Linked DNA regions of Homo sapiens: region 1 is linked to region 2. The links come from fine-mapping of genetic effects on gene expression. A gene starts in region 2. The other region holds a variant in brackets. All regions are shown on one strand. Distances are between the middles of the regions.

Region 1 (12,660 bases), 140 kb after region 2:
CTTTGAAAAAATTCAGGAAAACTGAATTCTTAAAAGCAGCAAAAAATTATTAAGGTCAAATCCTATGCAAGGTTATAATAAGAAAAAGAAAAATAAGAAGCACAATAACATCCCTGCAGACAATGAAAGCATACCAGAAAGACAAGATGACAAAACAGACCCAAGTGCAACCAAGTATTTAAAAATAAGCTAGAAGATATTAAGAAAAAGATTTCAAGAAATGAACAAAAACATAAATCAGAGTTAGATTAACTCAGAAATGAAGTGATAGGATTCAGAAAAGAATTAGTAATGGAAGAAAAGTATTATTTCCGAAATTAAGTCAAAATTAGAAGGAACATAAAAACAAATAAACATTACATGTAATACCTTAATAAGAGAAAATGAAAGGAAAGAAAGCTTTTAAAATCAAAAATAACAAAGAAAACAAATAAAAGGGATTTGAGAGGAAGTGACAAATGTTGAATATACAAAGAATATACAATATACTGATAATAGAATTTCTAAGGAAGGATAGAAACTAACAAAGGAAAATAACACTAGAAACTATTATTCAAGAATGTTTTCCTAAAATAAAATGATTTGATATTAAACACTGAAAGTATGCCATATGTATGAGAATATCGACTCAGAACAAACACATCAAGACATATTTTCATAAAATTGCTGGACTGACAAAGCAAGAATTCTTCATGCATGGAGACATATAGAGCAAATGACTTATGGAGTAAAAAACAAAACAAAATAAAATCTAGATTACCACAAGGTTTTCCAAAACCAACACTTTTATTCCAGAAAAAAACGTAGTAACATATTTTAAGATATTTAAAATAGAGCCAAGAATTTTGTATCAGGAAAAATTGTCTTTTAAGTATAAACGGTCCCCGAAAATTGTGAACATGCTAAAACTCAGGTAATATTGTTCTTGTGAGCCCTTCCTCAGGAATCTTAGAAAATGAGCTGCAGACAACCAAAACAACCAGGGAGACTTCAACATAAATACTGGTGATCTAGACCAGATCCAGGCAACATTTTTTTTTTTTTCGTAGAGGCCTAGACAGTAAATATTTTAGATTTTGTGAACAAGAGATCACATGAAAGCAGCCATAGATATAACTGAATTAGTTGGACTATGTTCATAGACCATATAAAATATATGACTGGCAGAATTTGGCCAATGGCTGGAGTTTGCTGATCACTATTTCAGTCACTGAGTATCAAAGGCTGCCAACCTCAAAAATAAAAACAACTAAAAGATGTGATCCTTGACAGGAGAACACACTATCCACTATAGTTTTGTCAAATTAGCCTCTGGATTTAGCTGACAATTTCTAGCAAAGATAGAGTTCAGAAGAACGTGCTTACTTGTACCATGATTGGCAATCAGTAAAGCCTAAACCATGAGCATAAGCACCTCTCTGGGCTCTGTAACGGATAAACTGTAAAAATATATAAATAAAAGCGATTGCAAGATAGCCTATAAATTAAAAGAAATGCAATACAGAGAAAATGAGTACAATTTAACTACAGTTTCTGGGAATGAAAATCTGTGTAATAAAACCATAATAAAACACAAGGAAGTGACTACTAGAAGGATCCATTGGTAGTTATTTTCAGGGGAAGGAGGAATCATAATTGGGACAGAGCATGTGGAAAGACTTCTGGGGTAACTGGTAGGTCAGGTTTCTAAAATCTTGGTGATGGATTCAAGAGTGTTTGCCTTATGATCATGAAGTTCTACATTTGATTTGTGTGGCTTTCCTTTTTGTTTTGTTTTACAATAAAAAGGTTAAGGTATGTGTAGGAACCAGTCTAGTAGAAATATACTATATTCATATGTTTGAGGAGCTGTGGAGTAGACAGATAGGGGCTGTAAAATACAGGACTCTTTGGCAGGCAGTAGGACAAGAAAATCTGTAAACACTTCCAAATTAGTAATTTTTAACACCTCTTATATGCCATCTTCTCAACTGCTAGCATGCATTTTTCTGGAGTGTAACGTAGAACCAAATGTTACGTTTTTAAGTATGAAGAGCACAGAACTATGTTCGTACATAAATTGGATTCAATTTATGTTTGTTGATATTGATGATAAAATATCACCAAAATTTCTTCCCCATAAATACACTGCTTTCCACCTTATTGCTCACACACTTTTCTTTGAATATCATTTTTAAGCTTGTGGAATACACATGAGACAAAGTTGACATAAATGATACTCAAAGGATAACACTCATTTGTAATGTTACTGTTCCTAAACAGTATATGTGTCAGATGGATAGTTCTATTTTAACCACAGTCCTATAATATGTTGAGTTAATAGGCCTAAGTTACTAAATTTGTCAGACACAAATACATTTTTCAAAATATCATATATGATCTCTGTGCTTTCAAAGGCGAATTATCCTTGCTTTTGATCTAAACAAATTTTGTGACAGAAGAATAATTGAACATTAAAATATTATGAGCATTTCTAAACAGCATAGTGTATGGAAAATAGTAGTTTATAAATATGTGAAAACTGACACATTTCTGGATTTAATTTTCCCTTGTGGCTCACTATGAAAGAATACCAAAATATTCTGGTAATTTTTTATTCAGGAAAAAATAACCTTTGGGAATAGATAACTTGCTCAGAATAACAAACAGGTAAGACTTTTTTTTCCAGTGGGATTTAAAAACCAAAATACTGTACTTCATCAAATATAAAGTGCCATTAATTATAAGATGCACCACTATTTTGGTATTTTATACACCACAAGGAAATAACAATATCACCAGTTAACTTTTATGCACCATCAATTGATAGATATATCCCAATTTCATAGCTGTCAGAAAAAGGAAACATATGTATCCTAGAAATAGTGAAATACATTGTATTTTTTATTACATTTCAATATGGCCTGTGACTGAAAGCAAGGGGTGTGGATGATCTGTCTGTACCTGTAACTTTATTGTGTTCTATATCCCACATTTAGAAATCAGGATTGAAAGACAGCACTATTTCTCACACATGTTCAAGAAAATGACTGGGTAACATAAGAGACTGGCTATAGCCTGAAATCATAGCCTGGGCTTGCCTTTCTTAGCATTGAGTTTGTGTCAAGGTCTCCTGGCATTTTAGGAGTATCTAGACAGGCTCAGAAGCTAACTGGAATTTTAATGGTCATCTGGAAAAATAAGCCAAGAGTTCATAGTATTAGCTAGCTAAAACAATGCAGTCTACTAATTCTCTCTCTCTCTCTCTCTCTCTCTCTCTCTCTCTCTCACACACACACACACACACACACACACACAAAATTGGGTGGATTATAAGAAGTAAAGACCCTCAAATTTTCATTATTAAAAATATATATGATATGGGAAATTAGCCAGGCATGGTGGCATGTGCCTGTGGTCCCAGCTACTCAGGAGGCTGAGATGGGATGATCGCTTGAGTCCAGGAGGTCGAGGCTGCAGTGAGCCATGTTTGCACCACTGCACTCCAGCCAGAGCAATAAAGTGAGAAGATATATATATATATATATATATATATATATATATGTGTATATCATATGTAAGGAAAAGGTGGATTATTCAAATCTACCTGCATCCTCCTTTCTGAAAAAGGTTTCTAGATGACTATACAGACTACTTAAAATTAGTTCTGAATGTCTTATTGATAAATTGGAAGGTAATATTTACATTAAACAAAATTTCTGAAAGTTCCAATTTTGGCATTAGGATTAGTTAAGTATCCTAAAATACTCCTTCTATAGAATGCACTATAAAAGGTAAAGTGTGGCAAATATTATTTGAATGTACAACAAAGCTTCTAAGAACATAAGAGAAAACCAAGAGCGTCAACAATGAACAGGAGACAAAGAGACTGACAGTAATCTTGCATTGAAGGCCTTGCTCTACTGTAGGCATTTTCTTTAACTGGAGACTCTTAAGTTCCAGATTTTAACAACTTTTGGAAGAACAGAGGATGAGTCAAGGTAGGGGGTTGAAGCTGGAACACTCAAAGGACCACATTTTTACTAAAAGAGAGCTGGGAAAAAAACTCTATGCGTGAACAAAGGAAGATGACAAATAAGTCTTCTCAGTCTTAATTCTGGGTGCAAAACTCTCTCCTGAAAACCTAAAATCAAGATTCAGTCCACTCAGCAGTCTGAGGTTCGAACTCCTATACCTGCATATTCAGGGAAGCCCAAAACTGAGAGATTAACTCACCTCAGTTCTGTATTGGTAGTATGTTGAGGCAGCTGGCATAAACAAAAACATATTCTCCGTAAAGAAATACATCAAATCCCCAATGATTTAATCAGCCAAGTATAAACTAATAGTGGAAAAATGCCAATCTACCCGCACATATCCATATCACACAAAGAAAAAAAGTATCATAAAAAAGAGTCAGCGATAATATGCTTCAAATGTTCAAAGACATAAAAAGGGTAATGAAAAGCAGGAGAAAGGAGTGAGAGACTATTGCAAGAAACCGGGCAGTTTTCAAAAGAGGCAGTAAGAACTTCCAAAAAATAAACATCCAATGGATATGTGAAATAGATTAGATACAGATGAAGAATAATTAGGAACTAGAATATTAATCTGAAGTAATTATCCAAACTGAAGCAGAGAGATGAACAATATGAAATAGAAGTGACAGAGAAGAGAACGAGAGTATTTAACTTACATATAAGGAGTTCTAAGAGGAGAACAAAGAGAACAGAAAAGAGACAATTGCTGATAATTTTGCAGTATTAAACAAAGGTATGACTCTTCAGAGTCAGAAATCACAGCAGATGCCCAGCAGCACAGATGAAATTAGCACCCAGATGCAATATAGTAAAACCTTAGAAAATAATAGAACAATTAATCTGCAATTTTTTTTCTTTCTCTCCTTTCTTGAAATCCACAGCTAAAACAATATGTATGAATCCTTGTTCCAACTGCCTATGAACCTGTGGCTATTAACTGTGCAGGCTTGCTCTTCTGTCTTCCACCAGACACTTAAACTCTAGGGTACAAGTGCTAAATTATCTGCACGGACCTCTTGAACCACTGCACTAACTTGGCTTAAGATAAGTCACAATTGCCCAACACTGCACATTACAACTCTCTGCAAACAAGAGTTTCAGTAATTCTTCATAGCTATATTGGACTTTCCCTGGCTTCTTTCTGAAGTTCCTGTTCCTGTATTTTGCCAAATCATTTGCTATTATGTATTCTAATTTTTCCTTATTGATTTATAGCATTTGTTTAAATGTTTTTAACACCAGCCCTTGGTAGTTAAGTTTTGCAAATTCTCTTGGTTTGTTTGTTTTTTCAATTTGTAAGTGCTGTCTTTTGATATACAACTTAATAAAGTGAAAGTTATGCCATACTATGTTCTAAAGGTATAGTTTATATTTTGCATCTTGTTTAAGAAATCCTTCTTACTCTAGTCATTAAACTATTTTCTTCTATACTAAAACTTAAATTTTTACACATGTAAGTCTTAAACTGGGATTGATTTTTGTGTATGGATTCAGAATTTAACTCTTTTGTTTTCATATAGATAAGTCATTTTTCTAGCACCATTTATTGAACAGTCCAGTATTTTTTTTGGCACTGATATGTCATGTCAGCTCTTTCACAAGTAAGATTTCTATACATTTTTGCCAGATCCATCATAAATTAGGTTTCTATACATGTTCTAACTATTGTTGGTTTATAGATATACAATTTTTTTTATTATTTGTCTTCTCTGCTAATTTTCTCATTAATTCTTTTGGAAATTTGCTTAGAGGTATATTGGACCTTCCCACTCAATCTTCTAGGTCTCTTAACTTCTTTTCTATTTTCTAAATCTTTGTCTCTCTAAGTCACATTCTCTGTGGTATCTTCAGTTGTGTCCTCTAGTTCACTAATTCTCTTTTCTACTCTATTTAATCTACCGTAAAACTGGTTTCCTGATGTTTTCATTTCAATTATTGTATTTTTTAAATGTTTAGCAAATCTTTTTGTGCTTTCTCAAATTTGTTTTGTCTTTTTTATATCTTGCTCATTTCTCCTATTTTTAATCCCA[C/G]ATATATTTATATAAATATATTAACATACTTATTATTTAGCTGATGATTTCAATATATAAAGTCTTTTAATACTGTCTGAAGTATGTTTTGAGATTTTTTTTTTTGCTTTCAGTACATATTCCTTGCAGGATTAATCTGTGGAAATTTTACCAGATCTAGATTAAGAGAGAATTTGATTTTGCTTTTGTCCAGTATCTGGGGGCACCATCATCTTGGAATAATTTTAAATTAAATTCTTGGCTTGAGGCTTTCCCCTCCACCCAGGAAAGTGATTTGGCCTGCACATTTACATGAGGGCTGACTTGCAGTTATAAATTCTCAGGGCAGACTTCTTTCCCCCTTTGTTTATTTGGTGCCCTGGATCACTAGGGGTAACTTTCCTTTCGAGGAACAGTAAAGGCTTTTGGGTTCCAAGTTTTTGCAGAAGGTTGTTATCAGAATCCTTACCTTGCGGGGTGCTGGTGGCTACGCTTTCTCTTGCCCCAGTGCTGAAAGTCTTCAAAACTGAAATGTAAGGTCAATGAATTAAAGCCACTTCCTACTGCTTATTTCTTTGTGTTCCCTCTTTCACTTACATTTTGGCCTCTGAGAAGTCTTTGCTTTCTTGCCAGGGCTTGGATACATTTCAGAAATGTAAAAATATATTCTATCCATTATTTTTAGTTTGTTTCAGCAACAGAATTGTTGAAAGAATCTCTTCCCCCAAACTGCTATAAACAGAAGTTGCTAAGTATTTTCTATGGATTCATTTATTTGGACCTCCCAAACTTGTCATAAGAGATAAAGTAATCTGCCTAAAGTCAGATAGCTAACAGGTAAGTTTTGACTTTTTTGTTCATGAGTAAGTAATCATTGATCCATAGAAAAAATTAACAAATAAAAAGCAACTGTTTTTAGTAACTACCTTAAAACTCTACTGACTTTTATTATAACAAACCTACAATTACAGACTAAAGTGGTTGAAAAGATATGTGACATGTTTTTTTCTGCAGATAAAGCTGTATGAAAATTTTAAATTAAAAATATAAATAACTTTCACTTTTGAAGTAGCAATGTTATAAATTAGAAAATACAGATTGGCAACATAAAATATTTTTAAAAAATTGTTCTAAAATGGGATTGCAGTGGTCGTTGTATAACTCTATAAATTTAATAAAAATATTTAATTGTATGCTTACACTTGGTTAATTTTATGGTATATAAATTATAACTCAATAAAGCTATTGAAATATCTATAATATATTGTTTTTTCAAAACCAACTACATGTACATTTTAAATCAGTTATTTGCACATAAAAATACATACATCTTTCCATGTCAATTGTATTCATATATGATATAGTTTTTAATAGCCAAATAGTATATTTTATATTTATAATTTATTCATCAATCTCATATTGTTGAATATAAACTAAAGATAGTTGTCTAATTTTTCTTAGTATAAACATTTATATGGTGAATATTCCTTGTATACATACTAAATTATTTCCGAGTTAATGTTCTAGAAATGAAATTACTAGGTAGAATAATACCTAAATTGAAAATGTGAGACATATTTTCTCACATTTGCCCTCCTACAGGTAGAAGGTCACTAAGTTTGCCCTCCTACAGGTAGTACTAATTTAAAGTCCCATTATCATGTTTAAGAGTCTTCATTTTCCTGTGTTTTTGAACAATTGGCATTATTATTTTAAACATTTTTAATTGATAGAAGTATGTTTTATTGTCAATTTAATTTATATTTATTTAACTATTGATAAACTTGAACATTTATAGAATATAAACTGTAAAATGTGTGTACAGGTACATTATATATATAATTTATGTGTGTGTTATACACACATGAAGAGAGACAGAGAGCCCCTTTGCATTAGTAAGTACAACGTAATTCAATTGACTCCTTTTCTACGTATGTAACTTAATAGTAATAATTGTTTGTTCGTTTGTTTTTTTAGAGTCTCACTCTGTCTCCCAGGCTGGAGTGCAGTGGCAGTGGATCTTGGCTCACTGCAACTTCTGCCTCCTGGGTTCAAGCGATTCTCCTACCTCAGCCACCCGAATAGTTGGGACTACAGGCATGTGCCATTGTGCTTGGCTAATTTTTGTATTTTTACTAGAGGCAGGGTTTCACCCTGTTGTCCAGGCTGGTCTCAAACTCCTGACCTCAAGTGATCCACCCTCCTCGGCCTCCCAAAGTGCTGGGATTACAGGTGTGAACCACCACACCCAGCCAGTAGTGATGTTTCATAACAGAACAATCTGAGAAGTTTCAAAAAATAGGCTTTTCTTATTTTTAAGAGAAAGAATAAAATATGTGGATTAGTACCTCTATTATTTATAGAATATTCCTTTGTAAATATAACTGTGCAAAGTACATTAAAGAAGGAAATAAAACATCCTTTTGCAGTATAGATTAAAATGCTTCAACAAATACTTATGTAACATTAACACACACACACACACACACACAAATACAGAGAGTGCAAACGAGGTTTTAGCCAAACACTAAATATAGATAGGGTTTGCTAATGAAGGAACATTCTCATTCCTCCATTAAATGTGTGTAACTACAAGGCTCAAGTTAGTGTGAGAGAGCGATACTATTCAATTAATGACAAGAACAGAGTATACATAGTCTGTTGAAGCGAAAAACAAAATTCAGGGTCAAATGGTCGTACTATACAAATTTCACAGGCAATCAGCAAACCCACTAAAGACATAGAGCTAGAAGGAACCACTGAATACAAATTGCTCATTTTCAAAAGGAAGGCCAGATAAATTAAGGAGACTTGCTGAAGACCACATAGCTCTCCTCGGCTAGACTAGAATACTGGTGTCATTTTCCTGCACCATTTTATCAAAAGATGTTTAAAGCACAAAACACGAAAAGCTTTTCGATTGTTCCCAGGTCTGTGTTAAACATACCTGGAGAGAAACAGTGGGTTCTAGTCTCATGAGGCTACAAGGGTCAAAGGCTCTTGATTATAAAACTGTGCCCTTGAGGGCACCGCTGGAAGGAAAGCTTTTCAAAGCTGAAAACCAGCAATTAAAAAAGGAAAGGAAACATCATCTATTTAAGCTGAGAGTAGCAAAAAGGCAGCATAATTTATAAACACCATTTTTTTTTTTTTTTTAACAGAGAGACTTAAATCATATCAGCCTCAGAAGGTTTTTCTCAAAAAGGTTTAACTGCCTTCAGGAAAAGATTTATCAAAGCCTATGCTGGAATGAATATCTCCAGGCTGCCAGTTGTTTAATTAATAATTTTATATTCATCTTTTATATTTGAGATAGGTTTTCTGTGTTTTATATTAGAGCACTAAAAAATATTAATGTTGAAGGGTAAATTTTTAGATTCTAATTTATAACTTCACTCTGCCTCAGTCTATTTTTTACCACTGAAATAAAAATGTTCAAGTATTTAGACTGATTAAAGTACCTTTATCTTACTGAAAAATCATCAAGAAACTGCTGGAGCAAAACTAATTCAGTTATTATACAAACAACAAAAAGAAATTTCAAGTAGGCACTTTGAGCCCCAGGCTTGGGGTCATATAAAAAAATGACAAAGAGTATAAGAGCGTGATGAAACCCTGACAGGGATCTTGATTATTTCTTACAAAAGCATTCATTTTAATCAGGGGCTTAGATTTTGCTCCTTTGCCATGGCAACAGATAAAGAATCCTGTACCTGGAAGGTTATAGTGATAGTCTTAATTATGCTCCCAAGAGGCATTGTGTTAACAGTTTAGTGATTGGAAGGGAAAGAACTAATTCTACCCAATTCTGAATAATACTTTTCCTACCCTTATAGAGGATAAGATTCTACACTGGGTTATGGGCTTTGCCATTGACTCATACTATGATTTTAGGCAAGTCTACTAACCCCTTTGTGTTTGTTTTCTCAAATATATGAAATGAGAACATGGGGCTCAGTTTCCATCCTGGAACTGGCTAAGTCTGTGTTCACTGGTTCATCTAGAGTTGAAGAAGAAAAGAACCATTTTTCCTCTTTGTTCCATTGGTGAAGCAATTCTGTCATGCCTACTCTACCCTTCTGTTGTTACTTTCTGGCCTCAAAAGTGATCAATGTGGGAAGATTCAGAGTACACAGAATTATGCTTGTTCTGTTGTGTGTAGCTTGACATTTCACATGACCCTTGAATCATCCCATATTGGTATATAAAGACTAAGGTCAGTTGCTCTACTCCCGAACAACTGCCTATTTTACTAATGAAATGAAAATAATTCTAATAAGGAAAATGCAGCAACACTAAGTTTACTCATAGAGAAAGGCAGGGGAAAGGTTCATGCCTTTACAGCACTGTATTAAACACTAAGGTACTCTTCAAGGCTCCCCATTGAGTGCTCATTGTTGTTTTAGTAATGCTTATTATTCTCACTAGTGTATCAGACTGTAGGGAGGAAGGAATGTTTCCTTTCTTCCTACATACTGTGCAGTTAAGGTCCCAGAATATTCTGAAAATAATATTTTCAGAACTATTCTGTTTCAATATTTTCAATAGTTTCAAACTATTATGTTTAGCTTCATGCTGGTATAAGAAACAAGCACCCACCTGAATTATGAGTTTCTTATGACAAAGAAGGAAGCATTGTAAACCTTTCTGAATCAAAGGTATAATAAACACATACAAAAATCAAATGTACTGTACAATATCACACACATGAGGGACAAGATTTGAGCATCAACATATTTTAAACTATGGCAAAGCTAAACCTAGGGAATTGGTTTTTGGTTCATCACTATTTCTTTCTGCACATCTCTCTGTTCCAGAGTTTCTAAACTTGCTCCAGCTCAAATAAATTTTGGGTCCCATCTCTTTACTTTTAGTGAGCTTTTAACTACCCTCTGCTAAGTTATTCAGTAACTAGGACTTTAGATCTTTCTATTCCCAGGGATATTTACTTTTAAAAACTTGTAAAGACTAGACTCTTAAAGACTGAAAAACCTTTGAGAGTAAGAGAAGTGGATCTTTAAAGCTGAATTTTCACAGATTCTTGAATTTTTGCCCATGTTCCTCAAATCACATCCTGGTATACACTATGGCAGTCACCAAGGGACCACAGAGAGAAACTGTTTTAAGTATGCTTAACTACCCATCTCCAGCTGCCACACCTTGGGGATCAGCAGTGTTCATGCTGAAGCCACATCCTCTCCAGTATTCCTTGCCAAGGACTAAGGATGGTGTAAGTCAGGGGGGACTCCTCTTATGAGCAGTCTTTGCCCTCGGGCGTCCCACTGGCATAGCCAAAACTTTGTCAGAGGCTCTCTGCCAGCCCAACTTCCATTTCCTCCTCTTTTCACAGGTGCCAGACCTGCAGGGCAGCCTGAAGGATCTTCCCACTGCTCTTGTTCCCTCTCCCCTTTACCTTCCAAGGGCATTTCTCCCAACATATCTCTTGCACTTGGCTTCTGTTTCTAGAGGATTTGAGCAGACACAGTATTCCATAAATACTTGTGCCACATGAACGAATCTCAGTTGGGATGAGACAAATGAACTATTAGGAAGGTGAAGAGAGAGCTGAGGAAAGTAGATTGTGTACCTACCATGTACCAGGTGCCTGACTGTGAGAGTGACTCAGTGCAGTTGGGCTAAAAGACTAATTGAGATAATGTATGCACTGTGGTCAACATGTATTATGCTCAATAAATAGTAGCTGTCTCTTTCTCAATAAACACTGAATTAAGTGTGAAAAGGACAGATGGGTATGAGATACTGGGCATTATAGAAGATGCAATGAGCCAGGCAAGAGAAGAAGACAGGGGTATTGGAATAGGAAGCACAGTCCAAGCAGCAACTAGGCTTCAAACTCACTTGGAGCTGCTACTTCTGTTGAAGTTTTAGGCCTTCTGGAGACTGTCAGTTCTAGGTGGCCCCAAATATCAAATGTGTTAATTTTTTAGGGTCCTGTGGTTTTACAGATTCCCAAATAGTTAATATGATGTCTAATCTCAGTGAAATGGGACAATATTGATTTAAATACAAAAGTTGTGCTACTCTAAGTCTAAAGACAAGGCTATATTTTAAATTTGGATTTGGGGCACTGAGTGGTGGTAGTGATGGAAGAGGGGAGGTGAGACTTGAGAGAGAGCATTGGGGTGAGCCTTGACTTCCTATCTAAACTTATTCTCATGGGAGCAGCCAGGCTTGGTAGTTCTTTTTTCCACTATCACTCAAAATGCAGCCTGATAGTGAGGTGTGTAATCATGGGCTTTTCTCAACTGTAATTTGATTACAGAGATGTTCTATAGGCAAGGAACAAATTTGAGGTCATATTACCTCCAAAGAAGATACAGGCTATAAGTAGGAAAGCTACTACAGAAAATGACAGAGGATAAAAAGCTTATAAAGAGATGATAATCTTATTCTGTAGCAATAGTAAAACATAAAAAGGAATTATTCTTTAAATCAAATGATTACTCTCACAGCCATTTAAATCATCTGCCAACAGTGACTTACAGGAGGTAAGTCCTGATTTCTTTTAGTAAATTAAGCCTACAAATGAAGGCATTCTTCATTTATTTCACGCCAATACACTTGCCACAAGCATTATCAGTTGAGTCTCCTAAAGTGTCATTTTTGAAACG
Region 2 (12,660 bases):
CTCTCCTCTGTCATTCTCTATGTTTTTCTTAAATGACATGTTTGTAGCTGGACTAGATCACTATATAAGGCCCCCAAGGAATCACACCTTTCTGCATCCGTGCCCTTTTGCATGTGACATAGCCACATCTTCCATCAAGAGACTGAATTTATCCCCCTGACTGCTTCAATATACTCTGTCCATGTCACTTTCTCTGACCAATAGAATGTGGCAGATGCAGCCATGTGTGTTCCAAAACCTTGGACTTATGAGGGCTTGCAGCAACTGCCTTTGGCCTCCAAGGACCCTACCCCGAGACTGTCATGCAATGAAGAAACTCACAATGAAACTGCATTTGGAAAGAGAGTTTCAGCCAACCAGATTTCTTGGCTGAGATCAGTCCCCAGCTGATCCACCAGCTGAATGCATTGGCCTAAGTGGGTGCAGGTGAGACTTGGCAGAAAACTACCTGATTAACCCTAATGATTATTAAAAAAAAAATACAGTACATTGACAATTGATCCACTAAGTTTTAGGATGGTGGATTCTTATAAAGCAATAGATAAATAAAACAGAATATTGTACTAAAAATAGAAAGCAACAGATAAATCCACTAGAAGTTGGCACTGAAAGTACAAAGCAATAGATAAATGTAGCAAATTGATATTGCTGTAACAAAACCCCAAGTATATGGCATTGTCTTAAGGGCCAGGCACAGAACAATACTAAGGAGGAGTATGTGAAACTAGAAGAGTAGGGAGGAAATTGCTATTGGAGACTAGAAAAACAGAGGTGCACCAATTAACTGTTGCCTGTAGTAACTTAGAAAATAGAAAATGTTCCTAATGAACTTGTTGATTTCACTAATTTCCATGTAGAAAATTAAAAGCGACAACTAGCTTCTTTTAGCTGTGTTAAATAAGGTATTTTAAGAGAAAGTTTTCATTTTCTGTTGATGCCATAAAAATTACCACAAATTTTGCAGCTTAATACAAATTTTATATTTTATAGTTCTGCAAGTCAGAAGTTTATCATGGCTCTTATAGTGCTAAAATCGAGGTGTCAGCAGGGCTATGTCCCTTTCTAGAAGTTCTAGGGGAAGATCTATATCTTTGCTCTTTTGGGTTGTTTGCAGAATCCATTTCCTTGTGGTCTAGGACTAACATTTGTACGTCCTTGCTGCTGTTAGCTGAAAGTCTTTCCCACCTTCTTGAGCACACCCATACTCCTTGATCTCTTCCTCCATCCTCAGGCCAGCAATGGTAGGCTGAGTCCTTTTCTCACTTTAAATCTCTCCTGTGAATATCTCTGACTACAGCTGAGAAAGGTTCTCAGCTTTTAAAGACTCATAATTAGGTTTGGCTCACAAGGATCATCCAGGATAATCTTCCCATCTGAAGGTCTGCACCCTGTAATCATATCTGCAACATCCGTTTTGCTAAGTAAGGTAAAATATTCACTGGTTCCGGGAATAAGAGCATGGACATCTTTGGAGAGGCATTATTTTGCCAACCACAGAAATGAACTAAAGTAGGAACTTCCAGTTTGCAACTGAATTTAGAGGAAATATAGGGGGCTTAAGACAGTCTTTCATCCAGCAACAGATTCTTGATGTAAGAAATGGCCTCAGAATAAAGTTCAAATCAGGGATATGGCTGTAAAACCCTCCCTGAAGACCTCTGAAAGACTCAAGCAGTGACTTGGAGACTTCCTTAAATAGACAAGGGAGCATCTAAGAATTTGAAGGGCCTCAAATGTGACCCAAACATAGAGAAATACCTGTCTCAAAAAAAATATTATGTTTGTGGCTTTGTGGGCATGAGGTAAACCCCATTCAGATTCATTGGAAAGGCCTACACATTTCTAAGGAAGTTGTATCAATTTGGATTAAAAGGGACAGAGGCAGTTCAAAATGGAAAGAGCCCTCTGGGTTCCCAACTTTCTTTGCGGGGAGGCAGGCTGAGAAAGGTATGCAGCTGCAAACAGGAGCCATTTCTTATGAAAAAGACCAGACTTAGTGGGAAGGGCCAAGAGCCAAATATAGGAACAGATGAGGAAAAGGAGTAGCAACAGAGGCAGACTGTGCCCTAATAAGGAAGCATTACATGCCTCTGGGGTCAAAAGAGCTGGTGACATGGGCCCAAGTGGATTTCAGAATTCTGTGGTCCCGTGTGTTCTATGTACCTTCTATTCAGAATGCCCCCTCCCCCTTCTTCTGTCAGTTGTTATCCTGTTCTTGTTCCACTGTTAAATGTTGGGGGTTGAGACGGCTGGGAGAGAAGAAGGGCACATGCTTCGTCCTTTTAGTTCACAGGTCTCTGGATCAACAGATGCTGTACCCAAGGAGCTGGACCTGTGGAATTATCCCCCAGGAATTTTGACTGCACCTGGATTGGATTTAGGTGAAAGATACATAAAGTTGACTTTAGTGATTAAACTAGACTTTGGGGTGTTGGGAGTGGATAAGTGTAGTTTGCCTGTGAGGGGGATGTGAACCACAGTGACCAGTGGGCAGACTATGGTAGACTGTTATATAATAGCATCCAGTGGATCATGCCTTGTTGTGTTCCACACCCCTTTGCATTGTGACATTGCTACTCTTCACTTGAAGTGATGGAATCTGTTCCTCCACCAGCCTTGTGACTTCCTTTGATCATGACGAGGCCTCTAGGTGCTTGTTTTTTTCCAAGCAGGAGGCAGGCTGAGAAAGCCATTGATGGTGGGAGAATGTGATAAGAAGCGATGTTTGAGAACCAGAGCCTAGATCTTAGGGATCCCTTACCTTCCACCATCATCCTCTTAGAATAGTGTTCTGAGAATACGAGGTATATGAGGAAGTCTGGAATAAAGACTACATGAAGAGAATTGCCCAGTGAGCCCAAATTTCCCAGCTGAGCCTAGCCCCCAGCAAACCTGCCAGCTGAATGCTGCTGCCTGAATGTTCAGGCAAGTCTGACAGAATGGCCACCCAGTCAACTACAGAATCATAGAAAATAACAACTCATGTTGTTTTAAGCCACTGAGTATTGGTATGGTTTGTTAGCAGTAGATCGCTGAAACAACAGCTTAAGTACATTAGATCTCACATATTATCTGTTTATAGAGTATTTTTATTCCAATAGACACATTAGCTCATCTCATGAATAGAGATGGCAAAGTATCATAATCATAATCATAAAAATACCTTGGATTGATGAGTATTATTTAACAACTATTGAGAAACCATAAACCATAGTATGATCTTTAACCTAGAATGAAGTAGTACTCATCTCATAAAAGCCTTTTGCTTTTTGTGGAAGTTGAGATTGCTGCAAATATAATCTCAGTATATCTACTACCTTTTGTAGTGTAAGAAGAGTAACTGTCATGAGCCTCAAATGAGTTCTGCAGTAGAGAAACCATATAATGAAGTAAAGAAAAAAACAAACAACAACAAAAAAAAAACCTTTATACTGATCACTACATGGGCAAAAAAGAAGACAGTTGTAGAGGTATGATGGAATAAAAAAATTGATCAGTCAGATGGCAAAACTGTCATCTTCATCAAAATGCCAAGAAATGTTCTTAATCTTTTTGTGCCAAACATTTTGTTTTAGTAAGATTCTGGGACTGTGTATATTTGTTCATTCACTCAATTGTTTATTTGACAAATATCGAGTGTTTACTAATGTGCCAAGCATTGTGCTAGATACTGGAGATCTAGTTATAAATAAGATAGATAGGTTTCTGACCTCAGAAATTTGGTTGGGGCTGGAGTTGTCACAATGGAGTGTGACAGGTAACACGACAGAATACTATAGTAGTAAGATTTTGTTGATTTTTCTCATAATTTTCTTTAACTCAATAGTCTCCAGGCTGCAGTTATAAAAACACTGCTGTTCATTTTTGTAAATTACAGGCACTTTTGCAGGAAGTGCTACATCTTGATTCTGTACTTTCCAGGTTCCTGGAGACCTAGAAATGCCCTTATATCATATAGGGATCCTTATATTGTATTGTATCCTGATGCTACTGATCCACAAAAGATGCTGCGTGAGTGCAAACATCATTATTTGATTTCCCCTTAGGATTTCCAGCTGATGCCTAAGTGGATTTTTCTGGAAGAAAGAATGTATCTTTAGAAAGCAGAGTGAGGATCCTTCCTAATGTAATTTGAAACATAGTTTCGTATGTCTAACTTCTGCTTTGCCTCATGCTCACTGAAATCTACAGCTAGCCTCATTTTCCACTTGTTTTTGACTCTCTCAGGCATCTTGAGGATTGAGATCATGTCGTAGTTATCTTTTAGACTTAGTAAATGAGTAATAAATGTTTCTTTTGAGTGACTCAAAAATTATTGCAGAAAAATTATCATCCTAGATCATTACTATTTTTCTATTGCATTTTTATTTAGACATGTTCAAAACTTTATTTATTTTTTTTTTTTTGAGACGGAGTTTCACTCTTGTTGCCCAGGCTGGAGTGCAACGGCACGATCTCAGCTCACCTCTACCTCTGCCTCCCGGATTCAAGTGATTCTCCTGCCTCGGCCTCCCGAGTAGCTGGGATTACAGGCATGCGCCAGCACGCCTCGCTAATTTTGTATTTTTAGTAGAGATGGGGTTTCTCCATGTTGGTTAGGCTGATCTCGAACTCCTGACCTCAGGTGATCTGCCTGCCTTGGACTCCCAAAGTGCTGGGATTACAGGCGTGAGCCACCACGCCTGGCCTCAAAACTTTAATTTGTTTTCATATTCATGTAAACTACTTTTGGATAATATGACAAACCACCAAATAAAAAAGAAAAGAAAAACATATAAAACATGGCAAGAACTGTGTTTTTAAAGAAAAAAGTTATTCAGTGATTCTTGTCAAAGCATGGTAAGGAAGACTGTATTTAGGGCTATAGTGATAGGTATAGGGACCATGGCAGCAGGGTCTTGCCATGTTGAAGAAGAGATTAGGCTCAATTCTGAATGCAGCATGGACAAGTGGGAATTTATAGCCTAGGAGCATGCAGGACAGGGGCAGTAGATGGAAAATTACCAAGGAAATATCAGGGATAAGGGGGATTCTGACTAAACCAAGCAAACGGGATTCTTGCTGAAGACAGAACAGGAGTTCAGGCCTCACATGGGGGATGCTGGAGGATGAGGAACCTGATCAAATATCAATATTGAGAATGGGGCTTCTTGCTAAATTAAGTTAGTAGGGTTCTTTGCTAAAACTGGATTTTATAAGGAAGTGCAGATGGGCCCAGCATAAGATTCAGAAACCTTACTTGTTTGACCAAGCAAAGAATCTTTGTCAGTGCTTAGGGTTTTTTGTGTTTTAACTCTGTTTTACAAGTAAACGATTATTTTAAAACTTTTGTCTCAAGAAACTTGTTTTTCGTTGTTTGACGTTATTCATAAACCTACTTACTGTATATGTGTCAGGGACAATAGGCTACAAAACCAAAACTAAGATGACAACCTATTTTGTAAAATGAAACTTGTAAAAGGCAACACACTGCATAGTTCCAAAAAGGTACTGTTACCAGAGTTCCAAACCGGTCAGGCCAACATTCCTGTTGTTAAAAAAAATCAATCAGGAAAAGTAGGGAATGCTGACACTTCCGCAAAGATCTACTTTCTCTTAGATAACAGATGTTGAAAACTGATTTCCCACAAAAAAACCCTAGAGGAATTGATAACCCCAGGAAGATGTTTTCTTTATATAACTGCTGCAAAGTTTGACAGCAAAGAGTCAGTCCCTCCTCCTCCTTAGGGGAGATAAACTTGATAATCTGCTTTTGCTCCAGTTTTCTTGTAATCAAGTCACAGGCCTTTCCTCTTCGCTAGCCCCTTTCAGGCTGCTTTTTATCCGTCTTTCCTAGAGCAAAGGACTTGTCCCCCTCCATCCCATTTACTCTCGACCCCCTTTCAGTTACTTGGCATCTTCTTTTCCTCGCGTTTCCCAGTTGGTCCTAATTTGTTCCCCTTTTCTCTGGCTGGCTGGGCTCCCGCTCCTCCACTGCTGCTCCTCCCACTCTGCGGGTTCTTTCTTTCTCCCTCCCCTCCCCTCCCCCAGCCATGCCTCCCAGCGCGCTTCCCTTCCCCCGCCTCCTGGTCCTGCACCCTCCCCTCCCCTCCCCCCGCTTCCTGCCTTGTGACACATCCCGGGCCCTCCCGGAGGCGGCAGCAGCAGCAGCTGCAGCGGCAGCAGCGGCAGCAGAGGCAGCAGCAGTAGCCACCACTCCGCCGAGGCCGCAACCCCGGCTCGGCCTCCCCAGGCCCCGCCGCTGCCGCAGTCATGGCTGCTGATGGGGTGGACGAACGCTCGCCTCTGCTGTCAGCATCCCACTCCGGAAATGTCACTCCCACCGCCCCACCGTACTTGCAAGAAAGCAGCCCCAGAGGTAAGGCCAGCGTAGATCCCTCTACTTTGCAAGGAAGTAGATTTGCAAGGAAACGCCCAGAAGGATAAAGACCTGGGAGCTCTAGCTTGGAGGTGGAGGTGAGCCTCTCGCTTGGGCTGAGGAAGGATGCTGACTGTGCCTTCCCAGGCAAGCCCGCCTGCCTGATAGCTTCTCCGCAGGGTTTTTCTGGTGGTGGTGGTGATGGTGGTGGTGGTGGTGGTGGTGATGGTGGTGGTGGTGGTGGTGGTGATGGTGTGTGTGTGTATTTCACCACTTCTTACCCAGGGCTACAGTATGTGACATGAATTTCCCAAGCTCTGCTTAGCTGTTTTCAGAACAGCCCCTAAGCGCAGCTAGGAGGTGGTGCAAATCTTTCACAATCATTCACAAATCTTTTTCCGTTGCTGAGAAACCAGGAGTATTGCTCACCTTGGCATCTGTCCTTGAAAGGGCTTTAGCTTGAACAATATGCTTCTGCTACCATTCACCCAACAGTGCTCTGTTCACTCAGTGAATTGCCATATCCAAAATGAATACAGTTAATCAATATTCCTAATATGTCTGAAATTCCTGCCCCTCCTTTTTACTCCTACTTTCAAGGAGTATGTGTTAGATTTAATTGTGAATGAGAAGGAAGGACCTTACTTCTCATAGAAGGGAAGATGGGATATTTTTAACACATATCTGGGTGAGATTGAAATTAACTTGTAAAAAGTAACCCAAATTAATAATACATATATTTCTATTTTTTTCTCAAGAAGAATAAAAAAAGATTAAATGCAATGGGATCTGGAGAAATATGGAATCTATTTACCATACTATTCGATTTATTTAAAAATCGATCGTTGTTCTAAGCCTTTTAGTTGATTACTATAGTAAATAAATAAGGTGGAGTCAGGCGTTACAAGAAAATGGAAGGCAAGACTTAAAAAAACCCACTTAGGTTAGTGAAAAGATTGGTCAAAATGGCACTTGCAAATGTTCCTTAAGTGCATCTCTCTCTTTTTTTGGCTAAATATGAGCAAAGTTTAAAAACCCAAGGAAGCAAAAGTTAATGATTTTGAAAATATAAGTAGGTAATGTTTCTTGTAATACAAGTTTTTAAGTTCAAGTCTGGAATTAGAGCTGATGTAGAGCAGGTTGAACTTGCTTAGTATTTAAAATTTCTATTTAACATTTTGTAACTTCAAAATAAACTATCTAGATCTTAATCCATACTTAACAAGAAGAAAAACAAAGGAAAAAGATGCTTAGCTGTAAATAATTCAGTGTGAGCCATGGCTTGAGAAATAAGGCACAGAGAGAGACTTGCCCACAGAAAACCTACAGGTCATTTTTGTTGGTCAGCATTAAACTTGTATCAGAGGACACCAGGCAAGAGAATTTCCTCTAATGGGCCAATTTGATATGAATATTTTACTGTTATCTAAATCGTATTATGTAGAATAGACTTAAACACTCACTAATGAATGTTTCAACTTCATCAAGTCAGCCTTTTATGGCAAAATGTTTGGCGGTTTATTAGGAGACAAAGTTTCAATTTAAGTATTTGTCCTATAACCTATTTTCATGCCCTCAACTAGTGGATAAGTTATTTTTTAAAAATGGCTACACTCAGGGATCAGCTTATAGACATCTTTATTATTTTCCATATATTTGTTTAACCTAATAAGATTCCTCAAACTACACAAGTATAAGTTCCAGTTCAGCCACTGAGAAAAAGTAGTGTCATTGTAGAAAACTTTTAACAACCAGAGAAATTCAATGACTTAGCAAAAAGCTGCTTCTGCCTTATGGTAGAATACATTTTTTCTTAATTGGTGAATGAGACAGGTTAGATGATTAGAGAAACTCTTAATTTCATATGACATAACACCTACTAAGGAAGAAGCATAAATGAGAGGTAAAAGCATTTTATTTGCATTTTGACAGAATATTTTTCTTCATAAGTAACAAACATTGTAATAAATATTATGAGTAATACACAAGATCTGGAAGACCACCACTATTCATTCATTTATTAATTTATTGGGAAGCACAATGTGCCATACACTGCTCTAGGGGAACAAGAGTGATCAATCCCATACCCTCATGAAGACTATATTGTATTAGGGAGAAAGAATAAATAAATACATGGCTGAATTATTTCAGATTGTAAAAAAAATTCTATCACTAGATCAGATGTTTTTGGTAGTTGAAAACCGTTAGGGTTGACAGTTGGAATTCAATCAGAAACAGAATGCACTTTCTGATAATGAATTTTAGTTAATGATCCCATTTACAATTATTCAGACTTTTATTTTTTTAAAAAAAGAAGTTAAAAGCTATAACTAGTGAATATTTTCTCCAATCTGACCCCTTTCTCTTTCTTTTACCTTCTAAAGTACAGGAATGTTAGTTCCCACCTCCAAGATGAAATAGTCCATTTCAGGTTGAAAGTCGGTGGAGTGTTTATTTCTAGACAGATTATTAATAATGTAGCAGGGAGCAGTTAGTATTGTGTGTTTGGTTTTAGCACAAGAAAAATCATGTGTGGTCTGTGTAACAATCCATGTTGGTTTCTAAGTGGAGCATGTCTAGTGTTCTCTACTGTCAGTATTGGATTCATGCATAGGAAATTGCTTCTCTCCTGCTTGCAGTGCTTCGTTTAATATACTTGCCAGTTTTTGTTTAGGTATAGAAATTAAAATTAAAGAGAGTTTTAGGCTCATCTGAAAGGAGATTGGAAGAAATACCACAAAATTTACACAGTTTTGATGTATTAATTGATTCCTTTATACATCTGCTAATTTTGTAGTTAGGATATAACAAAAGAATATGACCTTTGAATTTATAAGATTTTTTCTGTGAAAATTGTTTATATCTGGGGTTGTCTCATTATGTATTCAATATGGAAATGGGATTATATACTTCACTATAATTCATAAAGGGAAAATAATAATTTGTTATACAGAGGCAGACAGTTTGATTTACTTAGTTTATTATTCAGCAAATAAATATTTGAGTACCAGCCAAATCTGTGGTAGGAGAAGAAAAATAGTCATGGCTCCTCTTCCAGTGTAGTGGGGGTATTGAGAAATAAATTATGTAATCACACAAACAGATGCAAAATGCAATGGTGATGAAGACAGTGCTGGAAATATATGCAATACCTTGAGAGTATAAATTAAGATTTAATTTTGTTGAGGGAGTCGGGGAAGGCTTTCTTGATGCTTGAATGAGATCTGAAAGTTGAGCAAGAGTTAACTTGGCAAAAGGTGGACTGGAAGACCATTATAGGCAAAGAAAGCAGTATTGGCAAAGTGATCAGCAGGGTGGAGTATGACAAATACAAGGAACTTAAGGAAGGCCAACGTGGCTAAAATGGAAACAGCAGTAGGAAATGCACTGCAAAATGGGACTGGAGAGATAGGTATGGTGGATATTCTCCGAAGACTCTCTTTCCCCTTCAAAGAACTATGTCTTCTGATATTCAGTTTCCTCCCCTTGAATCTGGGCTGATGCCATGACTTGATTTTGACCTCTAGAATAAGGTAGAAAATATGCTGAATGACTTTGGAGGGTAGGTCAGAAGAGGTTTTACAGCTTTTATCTTGGTCTTTTGTAAAGTACACTCTGGGGAAAGTAACTTGTCATGTAAGAAGTGGAACACTCTGAGACTGCCATGCTTTATGGAACCTGAAACTAGCCTGGTAGAGAGAAAGATGCCTGACCAGCCCTCAGACATGTGAAGGGAGATGCCATCTTGGATGCCAAGCTCAATTGAGCCTTCACATGACTCCAGCCTTAGCCAAATTCTTACTACAACCACATGTGGCCAACTTGTTCTGCAGCAACAGATGACCAGAATAATGAATATGAATCAGCCCATCCAGGATATTGTTGGTCATGTTAAGGAATATTGCCATAAGCAAAGGGATGACTGGATTAAATCTTTATTATTAGTTTTTAAACCACTCTATAGATTAGAGAATGAATTAGAGGATTGGCTAGAGTAGACAAGAATAGATGACTTCCTTGATTATTGTAATAATTCGGGCAATTTAACTGAACTATTTCAGTAGCTTGGACTCAGGTGGTGGTAGAGATGGAGAGATGAAGGATGATGTTAAGGAGGTGGATTGAACAGGGCTTGATGATGGATTGCACATGGAAGTGAGGGAGAAGTGTCAAGGGTATCTCCTAGAATTCTGGCTATGCAACGTCATGGTGTGATTACCAGAACACCAGAAGACGGAGAACACCAGAAGAGGACCGAGTTTTGGGGAACACGGATAATGAACTTAGTTTTAGACATGATGTATTTCAGATGCTTTCAAATATCCAAGAAGAGATGTGACAATTGGATCTACAGATCCCATTTCTGGCAAAATGGGACCTGTAGTGTAGATCCGGTTGTCATATCTCTTCTTAGTCCTCGTTTCTTAGGACTAAGAAACGGGGCCTGGGCTGAATATATAAAATTGTGTGTTATTTGCATATTGGTGATAGCTAAATACATGGATGTTGATTCAGAACTTCCCAGGGCCCTACCATAAGATGTGCTGTGATGGAACATACATGTGCTAAGGTAGTGATTAAAGCCTTCAGGCCAGAGGCCTCCAGTTTTTTTGGTTTTGTTTTTTTTTTCTTGAGACAGGTTCTTACTCTGTTGCTCAGGCCGGAGTGCAGTGGTATACTCATAGCTCACTGCAGTCTTGACCTCTCAGGCCCAACTAATCCTCCCACCTCAGTCTCCTGAGTAGCCACCACACTCGTCTAATTTTGTTGTATTTTTTATAGAGATGAGGTTTCACCAGCTTGCCCAGGCTGGTGTCAAACTCCTGGGCTCAAGCAATTTGCCTGCCTTGGCCTCCCAAAGTGCCAGGATTACAGGCATGAGCCACCACACCAGGCCCAGCGACCTCCAGTTCTAAGATGTCATACACATATTGTCATTTTCTCTGTGTACCACAGTGTGAAAAACTTTGAGGCGCTCCATATGAGATAACCTAGGGAGAAAGAGTAATCTAAGAAAAGGAGAAAGCCTGGACAAAGCTTTGAAAAACCTTCACATTTAATGACTAGGGAGAGGAAGGTGAATGTAGCTGCCGGCAAGGTGACAAAAACCAGGAGATGATAATATCACAGAGTCAAGAGCAAGAAAATACTTCAAGAAAGGAGTCTTCATGCAAAAGTTTAAGAAAGAGCAAAGATGGTAAGGACCAAAAATGTCTTTTGAAGTTAGTGTCATGGAGATCATTAGGGACTTTAGTGACAGTTGTTTATATTTGTTTATATTCAAGCTCTTTTTAAAGAATTGAAGAATTATCTATTTCCATCTAATGTAATATTCCAATGTACCTTTATTTTAATTGTAAACTGACCTCAAAGCAGCTTAACATAAATGAAAAGGTTAATATTCCTTTACTCTGAAGCTCATTTAGGTTTTCTATGAAGCGTAATTGTCATAATTGTGTTTTAGAAGACATTGCCATATCCTTTTCACCTTTAAAAAACATGTAATCTTGAAATTGCTTGAGAAAATGTTTTCAGTGAGTAGAAAAATAAAATAAATTGACTCCTGGTTTTGAGACATATCATTTAATATGTACTCTTATGCTTTCTTAGAAATCCTACAGTAAATAGGTTTATTTTTAGTGACTCTCATGTCCTATACCTGGAGAAATCTAAGGTTAGAGATAGTGTCTTAGTTTAAAGTTAGGTAAGGTCTTAGTTCATTTTTAACTATGTTCTACACTAGGCTAGACTTTTACTGAATTAAAGAGATTGAATACATTTTGGCAGTCTTTTAAATTGCTGAGTCTCCCTGCGTACTTGCAGAGTATAAGGTTGTCTGTGGATTGGCAGGAAGAGATGACACAGATCCAGGGACTCTTACCACATGCACAACCCATTGTAAGACTAGATTAAATTCTCACTTTACTTGCCAAGGATTCGGAAACCCACTGGAAGCCAGATTGTCACAATGAGGAGAAAAGGATGCAGGATATTTGAGAGCAGCTTCCTGAAGCTCCCCCAAGCCCCAGTAGAGTGTTCACCTGCTGTGATACTGAGCAAGCAGGGCCTTGGCAAATATGAGAAGCCTATTGTGCTATGCTAATGCTAATGCTCCATTTAAGGGAATTTTTTTCAAAATGGTTCTTGAATCAAAATTTGCTTCACTGAGGCCACATCCTCTTCAAGGAAAAATAGAGCCCACACATTGGTGAAATAGATCGGCTTCTAGCTTTCCAGTATGGTGGTGAGCTCATTTGCTGTTGTAGTCTTTTTGTCATTATTCTGTAGGCATCAGGCTCCAG

Direction of the effects. Alleles are on the strand shown, and positions count from the first base shown. SD is a standard deviation of normalised expression in the study named.
As copies of G replace C in region 1, the expression in fibroblasts of the gene that starts at base 6,143 in region 2 goes down (moderate effect, 0.64 SD a copy in GTEx).

Evidence for each region. PIP is the estimated chance that this variant, and not a neighbour inherited with it, causes the effect.
Region 1: its variant is fine-mapped to the expression of PIP4P2 in fibroblasts (GTEx, PIP above 0.99).

The regions. Positions count from the first base shown.
Region 1 is chr8:90,897,760-90,910,419 of GRCh38, reverse strand. The region is part of intron 5 of NECAB1 (N-terminal EF-hand calcium binding protein 1); the gene reads right to left. All of the region lies in intron 1 of LOC105375634 (a long non-coding RNA gene), which reads left to right. Among named protein-coding and RNA genes, the nearest start is that of C8orf88, 81 kb to the left of the region's middle. The variant C/G (reference allele first, on the strand shown) is at 6,050.
Region 2 is chr8:91,034,342-91,047,001 of GRCh38, reverse strand. It overlaps PIP4P2 (phosphatidylinositol-4,5-bisphosphate 4-phosphatase 2), which reads left to right and starts at 6,143. Exons shown (of 7, transcript NM_018710.3): 1 at 6,143-6,358. The coding sequence starts at 6,253. RefSeq lists a silencer at 5,922-6,121.